3 linked regions of the Homo sapiens genome follow. The protein of the gene in region 1 interacts with the protein of each later gene in a pairwise test. Each region holds a gene or a part of one and is shown in the gene's direction. Other genes may lie near its edges.

The links.
Region 2: the proteins of ZSCAN22 (region 1) and ZSCAN1 interact in binary tests that used the Homo sapiens proteins (3 or more experiments, as listed by UniProt).
Region 3: the proteins of ZSCAN22 (region 1) and PGBD1 interact in binary tests that used the Homo sapiens proteins (3 or more experiments, as listed by UniProt).

Annotation. Positions count from the first base shown.
Region 1 is NC_000019.10:58,322,455-58,332,797, forward strand, and holds the start of ZSCAN22 (zinc finger and SCAN domain-containing protein 22), read left to right. Parts: upstream 1-4,539; 5' UTR 4,540-4,660; exon of another isoform or gene 4,661-6,085; intron 6,086-10,343. UniProt on the Homo sapiens protein: May be involved in transcriptional regulation.
Region 2 is NC_000019.10:58,035,552-58,045,527, forward strand, and holds part of ZSCAN1 (zinc finger and SCAN domain-containing protein 1), read left to right. Parts: exon of another isoform or gene 1-418; 5' UTR 419-460; exon of another isoform or gene 461-931; coding exon of another isoform or gene 932-942; intron 943-2,176; coding exon of another isoform or gene 2,177-2,285; coding exon 2,286-2,655; intron 2,656-4,898; coding exon 4,899-4,993; intron 4,994-8,888; exon of another isoform or gene 8,889-9,976. UniProt on the Homo sapiens protein: May be involved in transcriptional regulation.
Region 3 is NC_000006.12:28,289,447-28,299,422, forward strand, and holds part of PGBD1 (piggyBac transposable element-derived protein 1), read left to right. Parts: intron 1-7,369; coding exon 7,370-7,499; intron 7,500-7,940; exon of another isoform or gene 7,941-8,077; intron 8,078-8,448; coding exon 8,449-8,545; intron 8,546-9,976.

The DNA of each region.
Region 1 (10,343 bases):
ACTGAAAGAAACCAGGGTCACAAATGATTTTGTTGGCTTTCTACATGGAAGGAAAAGAAACCAAAAGTATTATTGTAGTGGATTGAATTACTAGCTCAATTCTTCACTGCTCCTTGCATATATACACCCACGGCCATATTTATGGTTCTTCCCAGTAAAGGCAAATTTGATGTCCCCACCCATTCCTTGAGTTTGGGTGTGGCCATGTGACTTGATTTGGCCAACAGAATCTAAGTGGAAGTGATAGCATGCTAGTCCTGAGTCCAGGCCTAAAGCCCATTGTGTCTCTGCCATCAGGATGAGAAGAATTTTTCCTGTGAGCCTTGCAAGACAAATACAGCAGACCTGGACCCAAACTGCAGCCTAGAGCCAAGCCCAGCTGAGCCCAGCCCAGATCAGCCAACCCTCAGACACATGACAAAAATAAGCACTTTTTTTGCTGTGGGCCACAGAGGTGTCGTAGCTGTTTGTTACAGAGCAATAGCTGATACAATTGCCAAATTAAAGTGAATACTCCCTGAAAAAGATAAGGTTTGAAATCTGGGGAGAGGATAAGAAAGAGACAAAGGGAGAGAGGAAAGGAGGAGCATCCACTCAGGAGAGTCCAGAGGCCAGAATGCTGATTGAACAGAGCACAAGCACAAAAGGGGTGGCCAAGGGAAAGGGCCTTCCAAGGTCTGCAGTATTGACTACAGGTGCCATGGTGGGTGCAGGAGATGAATGAGGAGAATCCAGCTATGCAGCTCCAGGCAAGGGAACATTGTTGGTCTGCCAGTCATTCAGTCATTCCTCAGCCAACTCTTAGTACCTAGCCCTGTACAAGGCATCAAGGATACCCTGGCCTCGGCTATGTAAAGGGCAGGACCCCTCTCAGGCCTAACAGCACAGACTCACAATCTAGGCAGAAAAGGAGCCAATGAGGAGAGATTCCATTGGCTTTCCAAGTCACCCTATACCCATTAAATGTCAACCAGGGCTCTTCTTCCTCTCCCTGACACCAGAGTCCCCTCCAGCTGCTGCCCTATCTCGCTCGTTTCCTCCTTAGAATCTCCCTGAAAAGGGGTCTAAGGATCCCCACACTGATGCCACTGTCCATTCACCCGTTATGGACTGAATTGTGTCCCCCCAAAATTCATATATTGAAGTCCTAACCCCCAGTATACCTCAGAATATGACTGTATTTGAAGATAAGACCTTTAAATAAGTAATTAAGGTTAAAGAAGATATGGATGGGTCCTAATCCAACATGACTGGTGTCCTTATAAGGAGAGAGAGACAGTAGGGGCATGTGCAAACAGAGGAAATGCCATGTGAGGACACAGTGAGAAGGCAGCCATCTACAAGCCAAGGAGAGAGGCCTCAAGAGAAACCAAACCTGTTGACACCTTGATCTGGGGACTTCCAGCCTCCAGATCTGTCAGAAAATAAAAAAAATTTTTTTTTTTTTGAGATGGAATCTCGCTCTGTCGCCCAGGCTGGAGTGCAGTGGCGTGATCTCGGATCTCTGCAAACTCCACCTCCCGGGTTCACGCCATTCTCCTGCCTCAGCCTCCCTAGTAGCTGGGATTACAGGCACCTGCCACCACGCCCGGCTGATTTTATTTTATTTATTTATTATTTATTTTGTATTTTTAGTAGAGACGGGGTTTCACCTTGTTAGCCAGGATGGTCTCGATCTCCTGACCTCATGATCCGCCCACCTCAGCCTCCCAAAGTGCTGGGATTACAGGCATGAACCACCGTGCCTGGCCCAGAAAATAAACTTTAAACTATCGTTTAAGCCACCAAATCTGTGGTATTTTGTTATGGCAGTCCTAGCAAACTAATACACCCTCCTCCCACCCATAATCAGAGGGCACTATCAGGCACCTGGGTCAGCCTTGCTCACCCCTTGGACACTGTAGTTCAACCCATCAACCCTATCATCTATACCAAACTTGTCCAACCCACAGCCCACGGGCTGTATGTGGCCCAGGACAGCTTTGAATGCAGCCCAACACAAATTCATAAACTTTCTTAAAACATTATGAGATTTTTTTTGCGATTTTTAATAAACTCATCCGCCATCATTAGTATATTTTATGTGTGGCCCAAGACAATTCTTCTAATGTGGCCCAGGGAAGCCAAAAGAGTGGACACCCCTGATACACCTTCAAAACAGATCCAGATCTGACCACCTGTTAGCATCTCTACCACACCACCGTTTGACCACCCTGATCTGAGCTACCTGCCTCAGGTGCCAGTACTCTCAAAGCAATTGCATCTTTGGTCTCCCTGACTCCACTCTCATCTTGACAGTCTTCTCCTGCAGCGGCCAGAGAATTCCTATGAAGAGCTAAGTCACAGCACAGCCCTCCTCTGCTCAAAGGCCTCCCATAGCTCCCACTTCTCTCAAGGTGGAAATCAAAGTCTGTATGTGAGCCAAGTGTGGTGGCTCACGCCTGTAATCCCAGCACTTTGACAGGCTGAGGCAGGAGGATTGCTTGAGGCCAGGAGTTCAAAAGCAGCCTAGGCAACACAGTGAGACATTGTCTCTACAAAAAATAAATAAACAAAGTCGTATGTGGCTCACAAGCCCTTCAAGATCTGCCCCCACAGGCCTCCCTTTTCTGTCCTTGTCCCCTCCCATCTCCTTCCCTTAATCCACCCCAGCCAGTCTTCCTCATCCATGCCTCCTCCTGACGTGGGCATTTGTGTTCCATCTACCTTGAACTTACTCTCCCTGAGTTCTTCGCTCTATTCAGGCCTCAGCTTAAATACCAACTTCTCAGAAAAATGACTTCTTTGTTTACCATCTGCCTCCCCACACAATAACATCACCTCCATAAAGGCAGGCCATGCTTATCATCATTGCAGTATCCAATCTGCAGTGGTGCTGGCTGCCTGTTGTGGGTGCTCAGTATTTATCTGTGGAAGGAAAAGAATATATGCTCATTCCAGCTGCTAGCAGTCTGCAGGGCAAAGTCTGAGAATAATAGGGGATGTGAGCACAGGCTGGGGCCAAGAAACACCACCAGCACCACCAAGCAATCATACACACCCTGCCTCAAAAAGGCCTCACCTGAACATAGGCTGGGCCACCAACCTCTATGTATCGGGCCCCAAGCCAGAGTCTCCTGCTCAATGTCTCTTACACATACACACACACACAGAGAAGATACATTCTCACACACAGTCCAGGCATCGACTGAATCACACAATCACACTACCATTCACAGTCACCGTAACAACATCACACACAGTCTAGGGCCTTTATACTGTGTCAGGTCCACCCCATTACCTCTAAGTATCTGTCTCAGACACAATTACACCTGGTGCAGGCAAACACAGCTGCATGATTATCACATATGATGATTAAATCACAGGTCACACACACGCAGAGTAAGCACACAGAACAACCCACAAACCTGGTCACAGAGTGACTCATGCAGACAGACGCCCAGCTCAAATTCAGTAAAAAATGATACACATTTATAAAAATGATTACATGTGTTCACAGAGAGCCACACATAGCTACACTCAATACACACCCTGACATAGGCAACCACACCGCTCACCTCTCACAAAGGCACCTTCAGTACTTACACAGACACTCACACCCACAAGCCCTCAGACAGGCACCCTCTCCCCTCACTCCTAACATGGGCACCCTCACCTCTCACCCAGGTACCCTTGTTACTGGTGGAGGGTGTCCAGGTTCTTGGCATCTTGAACAAATAATTGGACAAAATGCACAAAGAAAAGAATGAAGCAACAAAAGCAGAGATGTATTGAAAATGAAAGTACACTCCACTGTATGGGAGCAGGCCGGAGCATAGGGGCTCAAGAGCCCGGTTACAGAATTTTCTGGGGTTTAAATACCCTCTAGAGGTTTCCATTGGTTACTTGGTATATGCCCTATGTAAATGAAGAGGACGAAGTAAAGTTACAAAGTGATTTACTCCATGTACGCCCTGCATAAATGGAGAGGATATTTCCTACCATAGCTGCAGTTTCCATTTGATTTACTTCTAGGAAGTCCTTAGGTTCCCTGCCTCCAGACCCGATTTTCTTGCCTCACCCTTACCCCTCACCCCTCACACAAACACCCTCAGCCCTCCCAAAGCCACCCTCAGCCTCACACAGCCGCCCTCACCCTCAGCCTCACACAGGCACCCTCAGCTCTCACACAGGCACCCTCAGCCCTCACACAGCCGCCCTCACCCTCAGCCTCACACAGGCACCCTCAGCCTCACACAGGCACCCTCAGCTCTCACACAGGCACCCTCAGCCCTCAGCCCTCACACAGCCGCCCTCACCCTCACCCTCACACAGGCACCCTCAGCCTCACACAGGCACTCTCACCCTCAGCCTTCACATTTCCCTCACCTCCAAGTCCCGCCTTTCGCGCATCGCCTGCTGCTCTCCCACTCAGCGCCACCTCAGTCCCACAAAGGCCGGGCTGGGATCCTGTGGCCTCCGTGCTGACCAACGTCAACTACAATTCCCAGCAGGCACCGCGCCTGGGTACACTTGAGCTTCCGGAGGACGCCGGGAATTGTAGTCCTGGCGGGCGTGGGCCCTTGAGGTGTGCTGGGAGCTGTGGTCCGGGTCGGCGGGCGCGCAAGTTGGCTAGTCTCTGCGGCCACCTCCGGAAGGGTCCGCCGGCTGTGCTGGTGAGGTGGGTTTCGGGGGTGTTCTCCGTCCTGATCCAGGCTGGAGAGGGGCACAGCAGGTCCAGAAGCCGCGAACCTCTGGGGCGGCCAGAGCGAGATGCGGGGTACCGCCCAGCGGGTAGAGAGTGAGAGGCTGACTAGGGGACGTGAGTAGACGGACTGCGAGTGCCGGACACACGCGCAGAGGATGTGACGGACTGACGGACCAGGCGTGGACGGACCGTGTGTGCACGGACTGACGGACCCGGTGTGGACAGACTCACGGACCGAATGTGGTGCGGAATGACACACTGAGTGCCGGACGGACCGACGGAGAATGTGTCGGACTGACGGAGTGTGTGTCGGATGGACTGATTGACCGGGTGTGGGGCGGACGAAGTGTGGAGCGGGCGGACAGATAACAGATAAAATGTAGGACCAGTGGCCTGGGAGGGTGTGGGGCGGACCCGTTTATGTGTCTGATAGGCGGTTCTGTGTCTGACACCTCTTGGGTGTGTGTATCTGACGGGTTGGAGTGTGTGATTCTGATAGGTTGAGTGTAACACTAACCATGGAGTGTGTGACTGACAGAGATGGTTGCCGTTTGAGACTTCCTACGTGGGTTGTGAGATACTGTGAGAGGGTGAGCGTGTGACGGTGGGATTTCAAGTGTGACTGATTTTCTTTGTGTGTCCTTGAGATGGTGACTAAGATTATGAATGACTGTGATCAGAATAATACTGTGTGATGGAAATGCTGCGAGGGCCTGTGTTTATTTTTGAGACGGAGTCTTGCTCTGTTGCCCAGGCTGGAGTGCAGTGGCGCAATCTCGGCTCACTGCAACCTCCATCTCCCGGGTTCAAGCGATTATCCTGCGTCAGCCTCCCGAGTAGCTGGGATTACAGGCACCGGCCACCACACTTGGCTAATTTTTGTATTTTTGGTAGAGACGGGCTTTCACCATGTTGGTTAGGCTGGCCCGGAACTCCTGACCTCAGGTGATCCACCTGCCTAGGCCTCCCAAAGTGCTGGGATTATAGGCATGAGCCACCATGCCTGGCCAGGCCTGTGTTTATTTGACTGATTATAGGTGACATTGAGATATTTCCTGTGTCTGGGTATTTTGAAGGCTGTGGCTGACAGACTGTACCTGAGATAATATGTGTTAATATCTGATTGACTGAGATTTTTATCAGGGAGACTAAAACTTGGGTGATCCACAAACAGTTTACCAAGCATATGAGAGAGGATTTGTGCTTTGCCATGTCTGCAGCTGAAACTGAGTGACTAGTGGTCATTCAGCTGGGCTTATGGATATGTCCCCCAGTGTTTGCTTACGTGTAGCAGGGGGCTATGGTATCCATACATCTACTGCATGTTTACTGTGCACCAGGCCTGTGCTGGACACTTATAATAAATCACCTCACATAATCTCATAGCAACCCTCTGAGGTAGGTACCATTATCAGGCTTGGTATAATCCATGTGTGAGAAATGAAAAGAACCACCCTCCTTGGTTGGTAAAGCAGCTGTGGATGGGGAACCTCAACCTGATAGGAGTTGAGGTTGGCTGAGGAGGCTGAGGAAGTTTCACATACATGTATTTCAGAGACCGTCATGAGGGATTTCTCCAGAACAGGTGTTCCAGGGGTGCAAAAGAGAACTTGGAAGCTGTTGCAGCATCTATTGTCATCCCTGCCACCCTTGCTCCTCCTTCCCCTCATGATTCCCTACATTCTTGGGTAACCATGCTCAGCCTTTACTGGTCATTCCATTTGCTTAATGCCTGCTTATTGTGAACCTGCTATAGGGCAAGTCCTGTGTGCTGTGGCTCCAGGACAGCCCAGCCTCTCTGAGGAAACAGTACAGAACTAGCAAAGAGTTACCCAGGGCACTCTGGGAAGAGGACTTAGACTAGTACCAGGTATCTGGGATGACACCTGAGGAAAGTGGCAGCTAAGATGAGGCCTAGAGAGCCCAGAGGAATCCGTCAGAGACGGATTTCAGAACTCGAGAGCAGCAGGGGCGACAAGGGGCTTAGAAAGGCCACAAGAGACCCAGGAGAACTTTACAGTGCGGCGAAGGGGCTTAAACGCAGCTTGGCCAGAGGCCACCAGAGGTCACCAGCGGTCACCAAAAGGTTTCAGGATTGGGGTCTTGTTTTAGAGTAACGTTCTCTTCTTCCTGTGCCCAAGGCCATTGCTCTTTCTCAGGCCTCCTGCATCTCTGTCCAGGGTGACTTCCTTGAGCAGAGACTCCAGGCACACTGAGCGTCCTGGCTGACATTGAAGGAAAGGAAAAAGAACTCCAAATACTTAAAACTGTGGGAGTCGTGGATGGGAGAGGGAGAGGCTAAGTCTTTGAGTAAGGAGTAGTATGTGGCCAAAGCAAAGTGTCGAGGTCTCCTAGGAGAGGTTACACTTAATTTAGGGTATTCTTCCTGACTATAAGAGAAAACAAATTCACTGTGGGAAGTAGAGAATGTCAAGAAAAGTAATACAGTAGTCACCCCTCATCTTCAGTTTTGGTGAATATAGTACAATAAAATATTTTGAGAGAGAGAGAAAGACCACATTAATATAGCTTTTATTACAGTGTATTGTTATAATTGTTCTATTTTATTAGTCATTGTTGTTAATTTCTTACTATGCCTAACTTATGAACTTTATCAAGGGTATATAATAAGAAAAAAATATAGAATATATAAGGTTCAGTAATATCCATGGTTTCAGGCATCCACTGGAGGGTCTTGGAACACATCCCCTGCAGATAAGGGGGAACTACCATAGTATAAAATACCTTGGTAAGGATGTAGAGAAATTGGAACCCTCATCCACAACTGGTGGGAATGCAAAATGGTATAGCCAATTTGCAAAACAGCCTGGCAGTTTCTTAAAAAGTTAAGCATTGCCTACATGCGGCCAGGCGCAGTGGCTCATGCCTGTAATCCCAGCAATTTGGGAGGCTGAGGTGGGCGGAACATGAGGTCAGGAGATCGAGACCATCGTGGCTAATACGGTGAAACCCCGTCTCTACTAAAAGTACAAAAAAAAATAGCTGGGTGTGGTGGTGGGTGCCTGTAGTCCCAGCTACTCGGGAGGCTGAGGCAGGAGAATGGCGTGAACCCAGGAGGCAGAGCTTGCAGTGAGCCAAGATTGCGCCACTGCACTCCAGCCTGGGCGACAAAGCAAGACTCCGTCTGGAGAAAAAAAGAATTTTTTCAAAAAGAAAGTATTATCTCCCTCTGAATGTCGGTAGCACCCCCATCTAGAAATGGGGCTAGATTCTGAGAAGTAGAATTAATATTGAGGCAGAGAGCACAGTCATTTTAAAGCTCTTACAACATACTGCCAAATTGTTTGCCAAAGATATTCTAATTGATTGCCCTCACCAATAGTACATGAAAGTAGTTTTTTGCTGTCCCTGACCAGCATTCAGTGCTCACAGTTCTAGAATTTGGAAAGGCTTTGAGTGTGGAGGAAAGATCGCAGATAGCCTGAGCTCAAACACTAGCTTTGTTCCTACTGACCAGATGACTCTAGCAGCTGACTTTCCCCAACTTGGAAAATGGGAGTGGTAATACTGACTCACAGGGTGGAGCTAAGGCTTGAATGGGATAACAGATGCCAAAGGCTAGTGTGGCCTGGTAGCCGGTAGGTTCCCACTGACTGTCTGTTCCCATTTTCTTTTATTCCTGTTGCACACTATACCCATATCCATCATCATAATTATCTTATCATGTGTTGGTCGCTGTCCTTCCGTTGAGGCCATTGAGCCCAGCACCCATGCCTTCCCCGTATTTGCATTCCTAGTACAGTGCTGGGCACAGAGTAGGCACCTAATGGGGCTGTGCTGAACAAAAGTATTATTATTGATGTATGTGCCCAGCAATGCTGTAGACACTGGGGATAAAGCAAAGACCTAAACAAAAACCCCTGCCCTTAATGTGCTGATACTCCAACAGGGACAAGTAAATAATAAACAAGTAACCACATACGTGTATCACACATCAGGTGGTAAAGAGCAAATAAAGCAGTGTAGAAGCACAGAGACTTACTGATAAGGCGTCTTTTGTGTAGAGGCCTGACTTAAATAAGGGAGAGAACACCCAACAATTATCAAATGCACTTTTTTTTTTTTTTTTTTTGAGACAGAATCTCACTCTGTCGGCCAGGCTGGAGTGCAGTGGCACAATCTCTGCTCACTGCAACCTCCACCTCCCGGGTTCAAGCAATTCTCCTGTCTCAGCCTCCCAAGTAGCTGGGATTACAGGCCCCCGCTGCCACGCCTGTCTAGTTTTCATATTTTTAGTAGAGATGGGGTTTCGCCATGCTGGCCAGGCTGGTCTTGAATTCCTGACCTTGTGATCCACCTGCCTCAGCCTCCCAAAGTGCTGGGATTACAGGTGTGAGCCACCGCGTCCAGCTGACGTTATTATTATTATTATTATTATTATTATTATTATTATTATTATTATTTTGAGATGGAGTCTCTGTTGCCAGGCTGGAGTGCAGTGGCGTGATCTCGGCTCACTGCAATCTCCACCTCCCGGGTTCAAGAGATTCTCCTGCCTCAGCCTCCTAAGTAGCTGGGACTACAGGCACACGCCACCACGCCCAGCTAATTTTTTTGTATTTTTAATAGAGACGGGGTTTAATCATGTTGGCCAGGATGGTCTCGATCTCTTGACCTTGTGATCGGCCCAGCTTGGCCTCCCAAAGTGTTGGGATTACAGGCATGAGCCACCGTGCCTGGCCAACATTATTTTTTTAAAAGCTGTATTTTTATTTTATTTTATTTTTTGAGATGGAGTTTCACTCTTGTTGCCCAGGCTGGAGTGCAATGGCAGAATCTCGGCTTACTGCAGCCTCCACCTTCCAGGTTAAAGGGTTTCTTCTGCCTCAGCCTCCCAAGTAGCTGGGATTACAGGCATGCACCACCACGCCCGGCTGATTTTGTATTTTTAGTATAGATGGGGTTTCTCCATATTGGTCAGGCTGGTCTTGAACTCCTGACCTCGTGATCTACTCGCCTCGGTCTCCCAGAGTGCTGGGATTACAGGCGTGAGCCACCGCGCCTGGCCTCCAGAACATTTTTATCATCCCCAAAAGAAATTCCCAAACCTATTAGCAACCACTCTCATTTTTGTCTCTCTTCAGCCTCTGACAAACACTAATATGCTTTTTTTTTTTTTTTTTTTTTTTGAGATGGAGTCTACCTCTGTCGCCAAGGCTGTAGTGCAGTGGTGTACTCTCGGCTCACTGCAACCTCTGCCTCCCAAGTTCAAGAGATTCTCCTGCCTCAGCCTCCTGAGTAGTTGGGATTACAGGTGCCTGCCACCACACCCAGCTAATTTTTGTATTTTTTAGTAGAGACGGGGTTTCACTGTGTTGGCCAGGCTGGTCTTGAACTCCTGACCTCAGGTGATCTACCCACCTCGGCCTCCCAAAGTGCTGGGATCACAGGTGTGAGCCACCGTGCCCTGCCGTGTCTTTCTTCTTTTACTTAGCATCATGTTTTCAAGGTTCATCCATGTTGTAGCATTAATCAGTACTTCATTTCTGTTTATGGTGAATAGTGTTCCATTATAGGTATATACAGCATTTTATCCATTCATCAGGTGGACATTTGGATTGTTTCTCCTTTTTTGCTGTTATGAGTAATGCTGTTATGCACATTTATGTATAAAGTTTTGTGAGGACATATACTC
Region 2 (9,976 bases), 290 kb from region 1:
CAAAGGGATTTCTTGAACCTGTGGAGCTTCAAAATAGGCCCTTTTTTCTTATTCAAAACTACATATATAAAAGTGTGAATACAACATAAGAGAGCATTTTTGCCTGTGGCCTTGGCAGGGAAGACCAAGCTGGTAGTTTCCCAATCAGGGTGCAGGTGGCCGGGTACGCTGACTCGAAGATGGCTGGCTGGGCACAGTCCCCGTGAGTTGCCTTTCTGCCACCCTGCACCTCTCCTTTCTCCTGGATTGTAAAACCAGATGCACGAGAACTGCAGAGTGTATGAAAAATGCAGCAGAGGATGAAGAGGGAAAAATCCCATGGAATCCCTCCTTTTCACTTGTCATAAGCATTTCCCATATGGTCAAAAATCCTTCCTAAAGATGTCTTGTTTTGTTTTGTTTTTCCATGTTGATGAAGGTCACATGGGAGCCCGACACCATTTGGAGGAGATTCAGAGAAGTATGAACAGCACAAAGCACTTGGCCGCCCCCCATGGGCGTCTTCCCAGGACTCCCTTTCTATGACACTCACGCATCATCCTGCATCCCACGTTCCCTGTGCCTCATGTCATCTGTACATCATGTGTCTACTCCCCGTGGTCATGTCATAGTGTTGTGTACTGGGCACGGTTGAATACTCCCATCACATGATGGGGGAGGTAGTTGATCCCACCACGTTCAACTGTTGGGCACTTTTGTAGTGAATCTTGGTGCCTGAATCTCGCATCTTGCACGCAGTCTACCAAGTGTTCTTGATATATAAATGGCCACAGTGCTTTCCAGAAAGGTCGTGCCAATTTATATTCTCACCAGCGGATCAGTCCAGAGTACAATTGTTAAAGACAAACAAACGAAACCTCCCTGCTTATTTTTATTTTTACAACTTTTAATGTTTTCTTCAGTTATATGTTCACCATAGTCGGCTTGGAAAATGTACAAAAGGTAACTTCTTTTTTTTCTTTTCTTTTTTTTTTTTTTTTTTGAGACAGAGTCTTACTCTGTCGCTCAGGCTGGAGTGCAGTGGCACAGTCTCAGCTCACTGCAATCTCCGCCTCCTGGGTTCAAGCATTTCTCCTGTCTCAGCCTCCCGAGTAGCTGGGATTACAGGTGCGTGCCACCACGCCCAACTCATTTTTGGTTATTTATTTTTTTTGGGATGGAATCTCACGCTGTCACTCAGGCTGGAGTACAGTGGTGCGATCTTGGCTTACTGCAACCTCTGTTTCCTGGGTTGGAGCAATTCTCCTGCCTCAGCCTCCCACGTAGCTGGGATTAGAGGTGTGCACCACCACGCCGGCTAATTTTTGTATTTTTAGTAGACGGGGTTTCGCCATGTCGGTCAGGCTGGTCTTGAACTGCTGACTTCAGGTGATCCACCCACCCGGGCCTCCCAAAGTGCTGGGATTACAGGTGTGAGCCACGGCACCCGGCCACAAAAGGTTATTTTAAAATTACTCTTCCCACTTTCCCTCTCTTTTCAGAGTCTCCAGTCTCCCTTGCCCTCTTCCTGGTCTCCACCCCCAGCTTGGACCTGGTAGGAAAGTCAGGAAGACAGCAAAGATAACACCATGGGTAGACCTGCTGCTGGTGGTGGTGTCATCCATTATTATGTAGCCCACCTGGCTGCTTCCATTTAAATGGAATTTAAATTTAAAATTCAGTTCCTATTTCAGGTGCTCCTAGCCACACGTAGGTGGTTGCATGGGTAGAGAATCTTTACATCCCTGTAGGAACTTCACTGGGCAGTGCTGGCCACACCACGGGGCAGGCATTCTTGTTCCCGCAGCTCGTCAGTCAATGTGTGTTGAATGACTAAATGAGAGGGAGATAGACACTAAGTAAGGGGAAAAGTTGTGTTCAGAAAGTCATGGAGGTTATGAAGACAGTGCCATAAGGATGATGGCCAGGACATCTGCGAGGGGAGGAGCTGGGGTGGGAAGGGGAGGGGCTGGGGTGGGATGGCAGGTGCAAAGGTCCTGGGGCAGCCAGTGGCTTGAACTCAGTGCAAAGTAGCCTGTGAGAGGCATGTGGAAGATTAGGTCAGAAGGTGGGAAGAGGTCAGGTTGGTTCCTTGGGGTGCTGGAGGTCAGAACAAGGAAGTAAGGAGCCGAGGGGCATCCTGAGTACAGAGGGCCACCATCTGATGTGACCCCTCTGTCCCTGCCCCTCTCTGCAGGCCCCTGATTGCTGATTCTGTCCGCCTGCCACACCGGCTCTGTCCGGAGCCACTGGGACTCGGGATCCAGTCCACACACACCCCTCAGAGGGGCACTGTGGCCAGAGAAATGCTTCCACGGCCCAAAGCCCCTGCCTCCCCCAGACGCCCCCAGACCCCAACCCCGAGTGAGCAGGACGCAGACCCTGGGCCAGCAAGCCCCAGGGACACCGAAGCCCAGCGTCTGCGCTTCCGGCAGTTCCAGTACCACGTGGCGAGCGGGCCGCACCTCGCGCTGGGCCAGCTCTGGACGCTGTGCCGCCAGTGGCTGAGGCCCGAGGCGCGCTCCAAGGAGCAGATGCTGGAGCTGCTGGTGCTGGAGCAGTTCCTGGGCGCGCTGCCCAGCAAGATGCGGACCTGGGTGCAGTCACAGGGCCCCCGAAGCTGCAGGGAGGCCGCCAGCCTGGTGGAGGACCTCACACAGATGTGCCAGCAGGAAGGTGAGAGGCGCAGGCTTCCTGCCCCGGGCCGGGCCAGGGGGCCTGACGTCTCCGAGGACCGAACTGCCCTCCTTCCCGCCCACATCGCTCCCACCCCTGCCCGGCCCCTCCCGACCAGCAAACCTCTCCTGCCCCGCGGCTGTGTTTTTAATTATTTTTACATATAAATGTGCTGCACGCCTCATCTGCCTCGAATTTCTCACTCAGTCGGTGATTAAAGATCCCTCCATTTCCCATGCGTCCATCTGTCCTGTGGCTTTGTGTCTGCTGCTCCTCACGGCTGCTCTCTGGGAAGGACGCTGCCTCGCCACTTCCTCCCAGCCACCTGCAGCGCCTCCTGCAACACTCAGGAATCCTAGAGATCCTTAAGCCTTCACAGGGCGCAGGCCCCATCGCTGGCTGATGGTGGGGAGAGACGCTTAGGTCTGCATCCCGACTCTGGGAGCTGGGAAATTTGGGGTTGAAACTGGGCTCCCTCCCTGTCTCCTCTCTCAGCTCCCCTCTCCCCTGACAGGGCTTTGTCCTTCTGCATCTTTGCCCCTGTGACCCCACGTCGAGATTCCATCCACCCAGGGCCCAGTCCCATGAGTGGGGCTCTTTCTTTCCTAGTGACAAAAGTGCAGGGATTGGACACTGGGAGGCCAAAAGAGGCAGCCACGGATGGTGAGAGCAGTCGTGGCACTGTGGCCTCGGGAGGGCTTCCCCAGCAGGGCCCCAGCAAGGAGGGTGCCAGGCAGCCACGCTGCAGGAGCAAAGGCTGGGAGTGAGAAGGGTTGCATCAGAGCTCACAGAAAAGAGGGGTGGAGCAAGGGAGAGGAACAGGCCCTCCCTTTGCACCCTCCCACTACAGCATTTCCGTAGACCAACAGTGATAAGCAGTTTGCAGAACACAGGGTCCAGGGTCCCCTTACTGCCCCAGGGCAGCCGGTGCCACACTTAGGAAAGCTGTGACAGCTGAGCTTTCCAGAGGCTCAAGGGTAGCCCTGTAAGCTGCAAGGCAGAAGCCAGATGAATTGGCCCTTTGAACTCTCTGATCCTGGGGTAGAGGGCCCAAGAGCACTGGCTTCTGGCGCTCTGTGGACCTCACAGCCATCCCAGCCCAGAGCCACCCTTGCTAGTTTTAATGTTCCATGGTCACTCTCAAAATTCAACGTTTTTGAGCAAAGGGCTCTCTATCTGTCTTCCATAGCGGTGGTCTGCTTTCTACATTCCATATTTTGAGCCTATGAAACAGTAGAGCAAGTATAATGAACAGCCCTGCACCGGCCACCCACCCTTATCAAAGCCCAACCTAGGAAATGCTTTGTAATCTCAGCACTTTGGGAGGCCAAGGCAGGCGGATCACAAGGCAGGAGTTCGAGACTAGCCTGGCCAACATGGTGAAACTCCGTCTCTACTAAAAATACAAAAATTAGCCGGGCGTGGTGGCGCGTGCCTATATTATATCCCAGCTACTCAGGAAGCTGAGGCAGGAGAATCGCTTGAACCCAGGAGGCGGAGCTTGCAGTGAGCCAAGATCACGCCACTGCACTGCAGCCTGGGCGACAGAGCGAGACTCCGTCTCAAAAAAAAAAAAAAAAAAAAAAGGAACAACCAGTGGAATCAGCTGAACCCCCATGCACGTCTCCTAGTCCTGTTGTCCCCCGCTCTGCCTGACACCCCAGAGGTGGCCGTGATCTTGAATTTTTCTTTTTTTAATTAAAAAATAAATAGGGGGGGGTCTTGCTGTGTTGCCCAGGCTGCTCTCAAACTCTTGGGCTCAAGCAGTCCTCCTGCCTCAGCCTCCCAAAGTGCTGGGATTACTGGTGTGAGCCACCACGCCTGGCCTGGTTCCCACGTCTTGACCCTTCTGTCAATGGTGTCCTGAACCCTGCTTCAGCAGTCGTCCTCTGTGCACTCTGTGCACACAGCCCCGGGGGGCTTGGGGAGCAGAGGGCTCACAGTGCTCGGGCCTCCCTAGTTAGTCAGTGCTGCAGTGTGTGTCCTCGTGGGCTTCTGGAGGCGCACAGGGGTGTGGAGTATGAGTGAAGAGGGTACTTGTCTTCAGCGGCCCTCGGTGTCACCACAGGTTCCTGCCCAGCAGCCACATGGAGGGACAGAATGACAGCCCTGCAGCCACTCTTGCCTGCGCCTCAGGGGTGCTGCAGGGATGTTCGGGGAAAGTCTGCCCTCCCCAGAAGGCCTGGAGAATTGGGGGCTCTGGGAAGAACAGGCCCCTCTCACGATCCCTTTCTCCCGCACAGTTCTGGTATCTCTGGACTCGGTCGAACCCCAGGACTGGAGTTTCGGTGAGGAGGAAGATGGGAAGAGTCCAAGGTCCCAGAAAGAACCATCGCAGGTGAGCCCGGGGCCCCCAGCTCCGTGCTCCTGCACCCCAGGGCATGCGTGCCGCTTCTGGGACGGCCTCAAGGATGCCCCATCCAAGGACTGTGTGAGGTTGTCCCCAGCGCTCCCAGGAAGCCCGGCCTCCAAACTCCCCGCCTGCCCCACAGATTCCCCAAGCTTCCTGGGGCTCAGTGCTGGGCGAGGGCAGTCAGTGCAGCTGTGTGTTTGCTGTGTGCCTCTGGGCCTCACCCCAGCCCCTCCTGTCCTTTCCCAGCCTCGCAGTTAAGACCCATCCTCCTGTGTCACCCGCACCAGATGCTGCGTGTGTTGAGAAAGTCCTGCTGCCCCGATCATCTTCCCTCAGTGAACCCAGGATTCTGGGCGGGCCCAGAAGGAAATGCTGAGGGCTCCCCTGCAGCTAGACCTGCTGTTGCGCAGGCCTCAAGGCGACGGGAGGGGCCCGGCTCGGTTGGGAGCCAAGCGGATCTCTGTGTGGCTGGAGAGATTAAAATCAGGGGTGGGGACACGCAGACACATGAGAGAAATCCAGGGGTAATGGGTAAATCACAAAAGAACAAAAGTAAGAACTGCTAAGTGAGTAGCATGTGTTCGTATGATCAGGGCTACTGAGTTTGACCACTTTCTGCCTCTGGATCTTGGTATTGGAGCCGCCAAGGGAAACACAGCACGGTCGAACAATGAATGGAGCAAGGTTTTGCTCACAGACCAGAGACCGGGCCAGAGCACCATCTGCCCATGTGGCTGTCAGGCCGGGGCCAGCAGGTCCCTCCTAGAGGGGTCCTGACCTAACAGTGGGGCTGTCTAGGTGCCACGTGAAGCACACGCCTGAGCAGAACAAAGGGGCACACATTGGGAAACAGAGACCTCCACACGAGGCACTACACCCAGCACAAACTGGGGGGACCCCTTATCTCTTGGTAAGGAGATGTTCTAGGCCCAGGACCCACTCTCAGGCAGCCAAGTAACAGGCTGAAAGACTGCACATGTGTGTCTCCCACTGGCTTAGTCCGTTCTGGGTGCTGTAACAAAATACGGCTGGGTGTGGTGGCTCATCCCGGTAATCCCAGCACTTTGAGTGAGGCCTCACGGGAGGCTGAGGTGGGAGGACCACTTGGTCCCAGGAGTTCAAGAGCAGCCTGGGCAACATGGCAAGACCCCATGTCTTAAAAAAAAATGAGCCAGGTGTAGGGGTGTGCACCTGTAGTCTTAGCAACTCTGGAGGCTGAGGTAGGAGGATCACTTGAGCCCAGGAGTTCAAGGCTGTAGTAAGCTATGATCATGTTTCTACACTCCAGCCTGGATGACAGAGTGAGACCCTAACTCAAAAAACATCAACAGCCGGGCACAGTGGCTCACGCATGTAATCCCAGCACTTTGGGAGGCTGAGGCAGGCGGATCACAAGTTCAGGAGTTCAAGGAAGAAGGAAGTAACTTGTGGAATGCTGAGAAAGGTAAAAACACCTTCAAATAAGGAAGAGGAACAGGCTATGACCTAATGCTTGCTTGGACCAGTATAGGCACACCAGGGCAAATATTTAGGCTAAATTGTGGGAGCTAAGAACATAAAGTACATTGATTTTTTTTATTATGGCTAGCAGATATATAAGAATGTTAGCACAGGTCTTTGAATAAATTTTGCTTCTAAGAGAAGTTACTATTTATTCCTAATTAGATGGGGAGGAAAGTCTTTGAAGAGGAACTTCTACTTTACTTTTTTTTTTTTTTAATGGAGTCTTGCTCTGTAGCCCAGGCTGGAGTGCAGTGGCGCGATCTCGGCTCACTGCAAGCTCTGCCTCCCGGGTTCACGCCATTCTCCTGCCTCAGCCTCCGGAGTAGCTGGGACTACAGGCGCCCGCCACCTCCCCGGCTAATTTTTTTTGTATTTTTAGTAGAGACGGGGTTTCACCGTGTTCACCAGGATGGTCTCGATCTCCTGACCTCGTGATCCACCCGCCTCGGCCTCCTGAAGTGCGTGAGCCATCGCGCCCGGCCCTAAAATAGATTTAAAGATCATCATGAGAGCCCCTCTCCTGCACCAAAACAAAGTTTCGTGGGCCGTGGTTTCTGTTTCTGCATCTAACGGAGGCATCTAACCTGGGTAGACCACAGTTGTTGGCCACGGGCTTCCTCAGCCGCTGCCGGCAGATGTGCTTATCTGACTCCCTCTCCCATCCCAGACGCCACGTGGAAACCACAGCCGCGCTCACAGGCCATCCCCTCACCACACGGCAACTCCAAGGACTCTCTTTTTGCGGGGGTCGTAGGTGGGGAAGGCTGCTGAGGTCCTCCCACCCCTCTCCCACCAGGGCCGCTGTGGCTGAGAGGATCCTCGTTGGCGCTGGTTTAGGCTGTGGGGCTCAGCCACAGCAGGGTGCCCCAACGTCCCTGAGCGAGCTGCACTTGTGGAGGGAGAGGCCTTAGGCCTGAGGCCTGGCGCCCGCGTGGAGAGACGGCAGCTCCGGGATCGGGGCGCTGGTGAGCGCGGCCCCAGGCATTGCCGCTGCCAGGGTGCTAACACTGCCTGAGGCACCTCTGCTTTTGAAGTCGCCGGGGATTAGCGGGAGCGTAGGTGAGGGACAGGTGGAGCTGCTCTGCGCGGGGCAGCCCGGCTCGCCAGGAGGCGCTGTGGAGTGGGCACGACTGGCGATCGCTGAGCGCATACAACCGCCTACCATCGGAAGCCTTTTGAGAAATGCTTCCTTAGGCGGTTTCGTCACCGTGCATACATCGCAGAGGGCACTCACACACCTACACGCACAGCCCATGGCTCCTAGGCTACAGACCTGCACAGCACGGGGCTGCACTGAATACTGTGGGCAACGGTAACACAATGTTGTTTGTGGATTTAAACATAGAAAAGGTACAGTAAAAATACAAAATAGAAGATAAAAAACAGTACACTTGTATAAAGCACTTGCCAGGAAGGGAGCTTGTGAGACTGGAAGTTGCTCTGGGTGAGTCTGAGTGGTGAGTGAATGTGAAGGCCTGGGAGGTTATTGTGCTGTGGACTTCATAAACATGGTGCACTTAGGCTACTAAATTGGCAACTATATTTCCTTCTTCAATATAATTTATCTTACTGTAAGTTTTTGCTTTACATTTTTTTTTTCTTTCTTAGACTGACTCTCACTCTGTCACCCAGGCTGGAGTGCAGTGGCACGATCATGGCTCACCGCAACCTCAACCTTCTGGGCTCATGCGATCTTCCTACCTGAGTCTTCTGAGTAGCTGGGAACACAGGCACACATTACCGCACCGGCTAATTTTTATATGTTTTAAAATTTTTTTAGTTTTTGTGTAGATGGGGTTTCACTATGTTGCCCAGGCTGGTCTCAAACTCCTAGGCTCAAGCGATCCTCCCTCCTCAGCCACCCAAAGTGCTGGAATTACAGGCGTGAGCCACTGTGCCTGGCGTAAAAAACTTTCTGACTCTTGGGGCCGGGCGCGGTGGCTCACGCCTGTAATCCCAGCACTTTGGGAGGCCGCGGCGGGCGGATCACTAGAGGTCAGGCCTTCGAGACCAGCGTGGCCAACATGGTGGAACCTCGTCTCTACTAAAAATACAAAAAAATAGCTGGGCGTGGTGGTGTGCACCTGTAAGTCCAGCTACTCCGGAAGCTGAGGCAGGAGAATCGCTTGGATCCAGGAGGCGGAGGCTGCAGTGAGCCGAGATCACGCCATTGCACTCCAGCCCGAGCAACAGGAGCGAAACTCCGTCTCAAAACAAAACAAAACAAAAAACAACCTGTGTCATTTTAAAATAAATAAATGATACATCATTATCCCACAGAAAGGTTATGCTCTGGGGGCAGCAGAAATAAAAGCTTTGTTTTAAAGAAGCGGAAGAAGGATTAAACCTTTTTAAAAACCAAAAACATCGAAGCTGGGCGCCTCCTGTCCGAGGCCAACCGCTGCCGTCAACCGTCCGCACGGACGGCGCCTGAGGAGCCACCGAGACGGCGAAGAGCCGCGGCCGCCGCGGAGAAGGAGGAGGAGCCAGCGCAGGAGGCCCGAGCGGCCGCCACGCCCGGACACACGGCGTCCATCTTAATGAGGAGCTGCCGCGGCTGGGCGCCCGCCAGCCTCCCGCCGCCGCCTCGGGTCACCGCCCCGCGGGGTAGTCCGGGGGATCCTGCTCATCTCAGCTTGCCAGCACCCTGGGGTTGAGGAGCTGCCCGAAAGTTTCATTTGGCTGCTGCACTCCCACCCACCCTGCCTACCCGTGCTTCAGAGGCGATCACCTCAGCTGTTGGACTCTGAGGCCCGAGTGCCTTCGCACCGTGTCGAGAGCGCCATGGACCTCCACCTCTGTGGGTTTTGTGGTCCTGGGGCCTCGGTGCCTTCCTGCCCGCGGCTGGCACTCTTCGCGCCCTGTTGGTGATGACTCGGTAGTAGAGAAGTCCCTCAAGTCCTTGAAGGACAAGAACAAGAAGCTGGAGGAAGGCGGCCCTGTGTACAGCGCCCCCGCAGAGATGGTGGTGAAGTCCCGGGGGCAGAGAGGGTGCTGGGCGAGCTGAGGCACTACTACCATGGCTTCCGCCTGCTACGGATCCACACCAAGATCGCAGCACGCATGCTCTGGCGCATCCTCAACTGCCACACCCTGACCCGCCAGGCGCGCAGGCAGTTGCTCCGGTTCTGTGCCGACCTCTTCCGCCTGGTGCCGTTCCTCCTGTTCGTGGTGGTGCCGTTCGTGGAGTTTCTGCTGCCTGTTGCTGTGAAACTCTTCCCCAACATGTTGCCATCCACATCCGAGACTCAGTCCATCAAGGAGAAGAGGCTGAAGGAGCTTCAGGTCAAGCTGGAGCTAGCCGAGTTCCTCCAGGACACCATCCAGGAGATGGCCTTGAAGAACGAGGCAGCCAAGGGCAGTGCCACCAAAGACTTCTCTGTGTTTTTCCAGAAGATCCGGGAGACGGGGGAGAGGCCCAGCAATGAGGAAATCATGGGTTTTTCCAAATTATTTGAGGATGAG
Region 3 (9,976 bases), on another chromosome or scaffold:
GTCTAAAAGGAAAGAAGACTAATGTGCATAAAGAAAACTTTTGAAGGCATAAAAGTCACTGATAAAATTAAGTACATGGACAAACCCAGAATACTTTATTACTGTAATAGTGACATACAGTATACTCACAACTGTGAAGCCCCAAGACATACCTATCAAAAACAATAATAGGACTGGACACAGTGGCTCATGCCTGTAAACCCAGTTCTTTGGGAGGCTGAAGTGGGAGGATCACTTGAGACAAGGAGTTTGAGACCAGCCCAGGCAACATGGTAAGATCCTGATGCTATACCTGGAGACATGAGACAGAGTGAGACCATATCTTTAAAACAAAACAAGACAAACAATAATGGCTAGCAACCTGTTAAGAGATAGGTAATATAAAGATATAAATTGAGACAACGAAAAGTCAAAATCTAGAGGAATGGAATTAAAGCATATAATTTTTTTCTGTGTGTTTCTGCCTTTGTTTCTACTCTTGTATTTGGGATCTAAGATAAGTTGTTATCTCTTTAAAATAACTTATTATATCTGAAGGTCTTCTTTGTAAGCCTCATGATAACTACAATGCAAAAACCTATAATAAATTCACTAAAAATAGCAACAAAGGAAGGCATACTATAAGAGAAAATCACTTAGCCACAGAGGTTTTTTGTTGTTGTTGTTTGAGATAGGGTCTCACTCTTTCACTCTGGCTGGAGTGCAGTGGTATCATCTCAGCTCACTGCAACCTCTGCCTCCCGAGTTCAAGTGATCCTTCCACCTCAGCCTCCCAAGTAGCTGGGACCACAGGTGTGTGCCACCATGCCTGGGTAATTTTTTGTATTTTTTGTAGACCTGGGTTTTTGCCATGTTGCCCAGGCTGGCTTGAACTTCTGGCCTCAAGCAGTCTGCCCACCTTGACCTCCCAAAGTTCTGGGATTACAGGCGTGAGACACCATGCCCGGCTGTATATAACAATTATAAATACCTATGCATGCAACACCAGAGCTCCCAGGTATATAAGGAAAACATTAATAGATCTAAAAGGAGAGTTAGACTGCAATACAATAATAGTAGGAGATTTTAACACCCCACTCTCAGTAATTGACACATCATCCAGACAGAAAGTCAACAGAGAAACGATGGAATTAAACTACATGCTAGATCTAATAAGCCTAACTGATATTTACTGAACATGTAACCCAACTGCTACAGAATGCACATTCTTTTCATCAGCACGTGGGACATAAGAATAGACCATATCTTAGGCCACAAACAAATCTGAACAAATTTTTAAAAAATATAAATCATATCAAGTATCTTTTCTAATCACAGTGGAATAAAACTAGAAAGCAATAACAAGAAAAACCTTGGAAACTACACAAACGCGTGGAAATTAAATAGCATGCTTCTGAACAACTAATTTGTCAGGGAAGAAATTAAGAAGGAAATGTAAAAATGTCTTGAAACTAATGAAAATAGAAAATGTGACATATCAAAATTTGTGGGATACTGCAAAAGCAGTACTAAGAAGGAAATTTATAGCAATAAACACCTATATCAGAAAAGTAAAAAGACATCAAATGCACAACCTAATGATACACCTCAAGGAACTAGAAAAGCAAGAACAAACCAAACTGAAATTAGTAGAAGGAAACAAATAAAGATTAGAACAGAAATAACTGAAATTGAGACCAAAAAAAAAAAAAAAAAACCCAGAAGAACAATGAAACAAGAAGTTGGATTTTTTTTAAAAGATAAACAAAATCAAGTCTTTAGCTGGACAAACAAAAAAGGAGAAGACCCAAATGAATAAAATCAGAAATGAAAAAGACATAACAGCTGAGACCTCAGAAATACAAAGAAACCATTAGAGACTTATGAACAACTATGACAATAAATTTGAAAACCTGGAAGAAATGGATAAATTCCTAGATGCATGCCAACTACCAAGATTGGACCATGAAAAAATAGAAAACCTCAGCAAACCAATAACAAGTAACGAGATAGAATCTGTAATAAAAAGTCTTCCATCAAAGAAAAGCCCAGGACCTGTTGGCTTCCCTGCTGAATTCTACCAAACATTTAAAAAGAACTAATACCAATCCTATTCAAATTCTTCAAAAAAAAAAAAAAAAATTGAAGAGGAGGGACTACTTCCAAATTCATTCTAGGAGGCCAGCATTGCCCTGATACCAAAACTAGACTAGGATACAAAATAAAAAGAAAACTACAGACCAACATCACTGATGAGCATAGGTGCAAAAATTCTCAATGAAACACTAGCAAACTGAATTCAACAACACATTAAAAAGATCATTCACCATGATCAAGTGGGATTCACTCCAGGGATGCAAGGATGGTTCAACATATGCAAATCAATAAATGTGATATATCACATTAATATAATCAAGAACAAACACCATATGATTATTTCAATAGATGCTGAAAAGCATTTGATAAAATTCATTGCTTTTTGATAAAAACCCTTGTCAAAATTGGTATAAAAGGAACATACCTCAAAATAAGGGCCATATATGACAAACCTACAGCTAACATCAAACTGAAGGCCTTTTCTCTAAGGACTGGAACAAGATAAGAATGCCCATCTCACCACTGTTGTTCAACATAATACCCGAAGTCCTGGCCAGAGCAATTATGCAAGAGAAGGAAATAAATGGCATCCAAACCGGATAGCAAAAAGTCAGGTTAGTCTGTTCGCAGATGATATAATCTTATACCTCGAAAAACCTGAAGACTACACCAAAAAAACTGTTAGTGCTGATAAACAAACTAAGTAAAGTTGCAGGATAAAAAATCAACACTCAAAAATTAGTAGCATTTATATACTTCAATAGTGAACAATCTGAGATAGAAATCAAGAAAATGATCGCATTTACAAAAGCTACAAAAAATATAAAATACTTAGGGAATTTAAATACTAAAAATTTAAACACCAAATTAAGTTAAATTTAGTGTTTAAATTCCCTAGGCATTTTATATTTTTTAGTATTTTATTTATAATTTATAATTTAGCATTTAATTACTAAAGAAGTGAAAGACCTGTATAAGGAAAACTAAAACTCTCATGGAACAAATTGAAGAGGACACAAAAACACTGGAAAGATATTCCATTCTAATGGATTGGAAGAATTTATATTATTAAAATGACAATACTTCCCAAAACAATTTACAGATTCAGTGTAATCACTATCAAAATACCAATGACATTCTTCACAAAAATCAGAAAAAAAAATTCATGTGGTGAGCCCTTAATCTAATGACTCATATTCTTATAAGAAGTCCATATTTGCAAATTGACCAAGGGGTTGAAAAAAAAGAAAGAAAAATGCCCAAGTGAAAACACACACAGGGAGAATGCCATGTGATCACTGAGGCAAAGATTTGTATAACACATCTGCAAGCCGAGGAACACCAAGAATTGCTGACAAACACTAAAAACTTGGAGAGAGGCAAGGAAAATTATCCCATGGAGCTTTTTTTCTTTTCTTTTCTTTTCTTTTTCTTTCTTTTTGAGACAGTCTTGCTCTGTTGCCAGGCTGGAGTGCAGTGGCGCGATCTCAGCTCACTGCAACCTCTGGCTCCCTGGTTCAAGTGATTCTCCTGCCTCAGCCTCCCGAGTAGCTGAGATTACAGGCAAGCGCCATCACGCCCAGCTAATTTTTGTATTTTTAGTAGAGATGGGGTTTCACCATGTTGGCCAGGATGGTCTCGATCTCCTGACCTAGTGATGTGCCCACCTTGGCCTCCCAAAGTGCTGGGATTACAGGCATGAGCCACCACGCCAGGCCTCCCATAGAGCTTTCAAAGATAACATGGCCCTACTGATATCTTGATTTTGGATTTCTAGCCTCCAGAGCCATGAGATAATACAATTCTGTTGTTTTCCACTATTGAGGTTGTGGTACTTTGTTACAAGAGCCATAGGAAAGCAATATAAGTTACAAAACAAATTATGGACTGATAAAGGGAGAAAATAAGGAGGTATGATATTACAGATACACTTCCTTCATTGTGTTTCACTTTATTGTGCTTTGCAGTATTGAAAGTTTGTGATGACCCTGTGTGGAACAAGTCTGTCAGCACCATTTTTCTACAGCATGTGCTCACTTTGTGTCACATTTTGGTAATTCTTAAATTCTTAAACGTGACACTCTGTGTCACATTTTGGTAATTCTTAAAATGTTTCAAACTTTATTGTTATATCTGTCATGGTGATCTGTGATCAGTTATTTTTGATGTTACTATTGAATTTGTTTTGGTGTGCCACAAACCATGCCCGTTTAAAATGTCAGACCTAATCAATAAACATTGTATGTGTCCTGACTCCTCCATTGACCAGCTGTTCCCTCATCTCTTTTCCTTTCCTTGGTCCTTGCTATGTCCTGAGACACAATAATATTGAAATGAAGCCATTTATAATACTACTACTACAGTGACCTCTATGTGTTCAAGTGAAAGGAAGAGTCACATGCCTCTCAGGTTCAATAAAAAGCTAGAAGTGATTAAGTATAGTAAGGAAGGCATGTTGAAAGCCGAGATAGGCCAAAAGCTAGGAGGCCTCTTGTGCCAAACAGGCAGGTGGTGAATGCAAAGGAAATGTTCTTGAAGGAAATGAAAAGTGCTACTCTGGTGAACATATGAATGATAAGAAAGCAAAAAGCTTTTTGCTGATATGGAGAAAGTTTGAGTGGTTTGGATAGAAGATCACACCAGCCACAGCATTGCCTTGAGCCAAAGGCTAATCCAGAGCACATCTCTTACTCTCTTCAATTCTGTGAAGGCTGAGAGAGGTGAGGAAGCTACAGAAGAATAATCGGAAGCTAGCAGAGGTTGGTTCGTGAGGTGTAAGGAAGAAGCCATCTCTATAAAATGCATCAGCAACAAGTGCTGATGCAGATGCTGCAGCAGGTTATCCAGATCTAGCTAAAATCACTAATGAAGGTGGCTACACTAAACAACAGATTTTCAATGAAGATGAAACCACCTTTTATTGAAATAAGATGCCATCTAGGACTTTGATTGCTAGAGAGGAGAAGTCAGTGCCTGGCTTCAAAGCTTCAAAGGACAGCCTGACTTGTTAGGGGCTTACGCAGTTGGTGATTTTAAAGTTGAAGCCAGTGCTCATTTATCATTCTGAAAATCCTAGGGTCCATAAGAATTATGCTAAACCTACTCTGCCTGTACTCTAGAAATGGAACAACAAAGCCTGGATGATAGCACATCTGTTTACAGCATGGTTTACTGAATATTTTAAGCCTACTGTTGAGACATACTACTCAAAAAAGAAAAAAAGATTTCTTTGAAAATATTACTGCTTATTCACAGAGCACCTAGTCACACAAGAGCTCTGAAGGAGAGGTACAAGGAAATTAATGTTTTCAAGCCTGCCAATACAATACACATTCTGTAGCCCATGGATCAAGGAGTAATTTTGACTTTCAAGTCTTATTATTTGAGAAATACATTTTTTAAGGCTATAGCTGCCATAGATAGTGATTCCATAGATAGTGATGGATCTGGGCAAAGTAAATTAAAAACCTTCTGGAAAGGATTCATCATTCTAGATGCCATTAACATTTGTGATTCAAGGGAGGAGGTGAAAATACCAACATTAACAGGAGTTTGGAAGAAATTGGTTCTAACACTCATCATTGTCTTTGAGAGGTTTAGGACTTCAGTGGATAGTGTAGCTGCAGATGTGGTGGAAAGGACTAGTATTAGAAGTGGAACCTGAAGATGTGACTGAATTGCTACAATCTCATGACAAAACTTGAACAGATAAGTTACTTCTTATGGGTGAGAAAAGAAAGTGGTTTGAGATTGAATCTACTCCTGGTGAAGCATTGTTGAAATGACAACAAAGGATTTAGAATATTAAATAAACGTAGTTGATAAAGCAGCAGCAGGTTTGAGATGATTGACTACAATTTTGAAAGAAGTTCTACTCTGGGTAAAATGCTATCAAACAACATTGCATGCTACACAGAAATCTTTTGTGAAAGGAAGAGTCAATCAAGGTGGCCAACATTACTGTTGTCTTATTTTAAGCAACTGCCACAGCCACCGAAACCTTCAGCAACCACCACATTGATTAGTCAGCATCGTTCAACATCGCAGGAAGCCCCTCTACCAGCAAAAAGATCACAACTCTCTGAAGGCTCAGATGATTATTAGCATGTATTAGCAATAAAGTATTTTTAAATTAAGATATATACTTTTTTAGACACAATGCTTATGTACGATTAATAGACTACATAGTATAGTGTAAACATGACTTTCACATGCACTCGGAAGCCAAGAAATTTCTGTGACTTGCTTTATTGTGATATTTGCCTTATTGTGGTGGTCTGGAACTGAACCTGCAATATCTCTGAGGTAGGCCTATGTTTAAATGAGGTGGGCTTTGCCTTTTATTATCAAAATAATTATCTGTAGTTTGGAATAGGGTGATGATGAGTTAAAGAGAAAACATCTTCTGTCTTGAAACCCCCTCCTTGTCAAAACAGATATTCATTCTCTAAAAGACTGGCACTGTGTCCTTTTTCAGGCAACAAGAAAGAGAAAGTAGATTGGAAAATGAGAGAAAATCAAGAGGCTAATGAAACCATGTGGTAGCCTTTTGGGACAGTGTCAGAGAGATAGAAAATCTCAGACAGTTCCCCAAATAAATAAATTCAGTGTATGATTTTTCCAGCCTACATATCATTACTAGCTTTGAAATGTTTTTAAACAATCTTTGTTGATGAAATTCAGTGAGATTTCTGCATTTACATTAGATTCCAAATCTGTTAAAAGGAGTCTCAAAACTCTGTTAGGTATTTGTAGTCAGTTTAATTGCATTTGTTATAACTGCAATATTATATTGAAGTGCTGTTCAACCAAATACATAGAAAATGCTGTAAAATAGTGTGTAGAACAATCCAAGTGAGTCAACTTTTGTGACAATGTCTTTAATCGATGTAAGCTTCCTTCTCTAACTTTCTTGAATTACTGACTTTTTTTCAGTATCATCCTATAAAAACTCTTCAGGTTTCCTATGTTTCAGTGTAGCTGATTTATACTGATTGTAGGTTTGGTTCAGGAGGACACTCAAAAGTCCTGCAGGATGTGGAAGAATTCTTTGTAGTGTGGGACTGTCCCACATATTTCAAGATGCCTAGCATCTCTGGCCTCACCCTCTGAATGGCATCGGCTTGAGGTGGTGGTGGACTTCATTGTTATAACCAGAAAGGTTCCCACAAGTTTACAAAATGCCCTGAGGGGCTGGGACTACCGGTCTACAGCGTGGTATTCAACACCCTTCACAACTGGATTCCTTACCATGTGAAAACAAAGAGGCTATTTTCTTTTTTTGTCTTTTTAGACATTGGTGAAGACTGAGGAAGAAACAGCCCAGGCCGTTGCTGCAGAGAAGTGGTCACATCTGAGTCTGACTCGGAGGAACCTCTGTGGGAACTCAGCTCAGGAGACAGTTATGAGCCTCAGTCCGATGAGTAAGGCCAGGCCTCTGGCTGGACCCCTGTCTGGACTCTCATTTTCCTGTCACTCACCCTGGCTTGGCCCTTGGGAGGCCACGTTTCCTACAGACCCACACCCTTCCTTTCCCTTCTTCTGGCCTCTGCCTCCAGACTTCTAGCCCTTATCACTTTGCATCCTTCCCAATCACATTTTCTTCTGTTACTAATCAGTTTACTGATTGTTGTGGTTATCTTCTCTGATCATCTCTTCTAGTTCCCTGATTCCTTCAGTGACTCCTTTGTATCCTTTTCCCCTTTTTTCTTCCCTGTCAAGGATTCCATATAACTTGTCTTTCAGATATCCCTTCATACTTGGAAGCCCCATGAACACCTCTGTCTGACCTTGTCTTTACCTCAGAGGAGGTCATCTTCACTCTCTAAGAACACGACAGTTCATGTTTATTTTATTTTTTTTAGTTTTTTTAAAGATGGGGTCTCGCTTTGTTGCCCATGCTGGAGCATAGTGGCACGATGATAGTTCACTGCAGCCTCAAACTCCTGGGCTCAACTGATCCTCCCACCTCAGCCTTCTAAAAAGCTGGGGCTACACCCAGGTAATTTTTTGTAGACACGGAGTCTCGCTATGTTGCCCAGGCTGGTCTTGAACTCCTGGCCTGAAGCAGTCCTTCCACCTTGGCCTCCCAAAGCACCCAGCCTAATTTTCTTGAAATGTGCTCTGCCCTGTTGGGCCCTCTCTGCAGCTGGGCTTTGGTGCCTTAATTAACCTTTCTTATCATTTTCCCATACCATGCCACATTTTGTAGGATTGCTGAAACTGTGCACCCTTGAAACACCAATATGATTTGTTTTTTGTTTGATTTGGAACATCTATTCCCTACCCTGGAAGTTTTTTTTTTTTTTTTTTTTTTTTTTTTTCAAAATTCACATAACAGATGACATTTAAATCATTAATGTTATATTTTAGCTGAAGAAATTGTAACTAAAGATAGATTGTTTAAAGCAAAGCAAGAAACTTCTGAAGAAATGGAACAAAGTGGAGAAGCCTCAGGAAAGCCCAACAGGTGAGTGTCCATGGTCCTCAGTGAATCAAATCCTGCAGATATAAGAAATTGGAATGGAATCAGAGAAACCAATTGGTCAAAGGCCTGCTTCTCTGGAATAAGATATGACAACTGCCACTCACTTCTGTGATCATAGGAGGTCCATGCCAAGAAAGTGACCTATTCAAAATTTTCAATATGCAATAAATATACAAAACCTTCAGTTGATACTCAGTTTCCTCCAAGAAGCCTATCCTGATCCAGTCTGTCCTGCTTGATTACCCTTCCCTGGGCTCCCTTACATTTTTATGGAGCTGTGGAGAAGCTAGAAGGCAGATAATTTAACAAGAATGAGGGCTACAGATGAAGCTGCCATGACAGTTAAGAAAGAAATGTCAGAGTGGAAGAGGACAAGCAGGGTACAGGTTGAGCATTCCAAATCTGAAATGTTCCAAAATCTGAGCTGTTTGAGCACCAGCATGATGCTCAAAGGAAATGCTCATTGGAGCATTTTGGATTTTGGATCTTTGGTTAGGGATGCCCAACTGGTATAATGCAAATATTCCAAAATCTGAAAAAAATCCAAAATTCAAAAATCTTCTGACCCCAAGCATTTCAGATAAGGGAAAATTAACCTGTATTTTCAACCGCCATTGGGAGACCTGAACAAGGTATAGGTCAAAAGGAAAGTTAGCTGATGAAGTAGAAATGAATGACAGTGGTGTGTGCTTCATAAGTGCTGGTTGTGGGAATGAATGAACTTGTAACAGATACTCCTATGCAAAGCAAGAAACTTCTGAAGAAATGGAACAAGGTGGAGAAGCCTCGGGAATGCCCAACATTCCGAGGCTTCTCAGGATTGCAGAAAGAGAGGGAACAAATCACAAGCAGAGGGTTGGCTTCTGGTGAGGCCATTTGGTCCTCAGAGACTTGAGAAAAGAGAGAGTAAGCAAGGTGGGCTACTTGGCCAAAGAGCTGAGAAGGGGGTGTGAATTTTCCTTATTGACATTTGTTTAACTTAGAGAAACTGGGAGCTAAATCTCAGCTAAAGTAGAAATGTCTTAAAGCTCAAGAGGAGAAGTGAAATTTTGCATTAAGATTAGTGAAGACTGAGCCAGGCTCCACTAAAGGAAGAGATATGATGTTCAGTAACTTAGAGCAGAGTTATGCAACTGGAGAATAGGAATCTGCTATTGTGCCTGTAGGTACATTTAGTATCAGGCAACTAACAGGTAATTCATAGTGCCTATAATAAAGATATTCATATAACAAAAAGTGTGAAGGTAGGCTATTTCAGGTTAGGTGCAATAGCTTAACCATGGTATCAAAGGTCTAGCCCCCTGCCCTCCTTCTAGTCCCCCTCCCTCACCCCCACCCCACTTTCTTAGCTCACTCTTTTTTCCCATTTCTCACTCCCATTTCCTTCCCTCACAATATTGGGCTTAATGCACT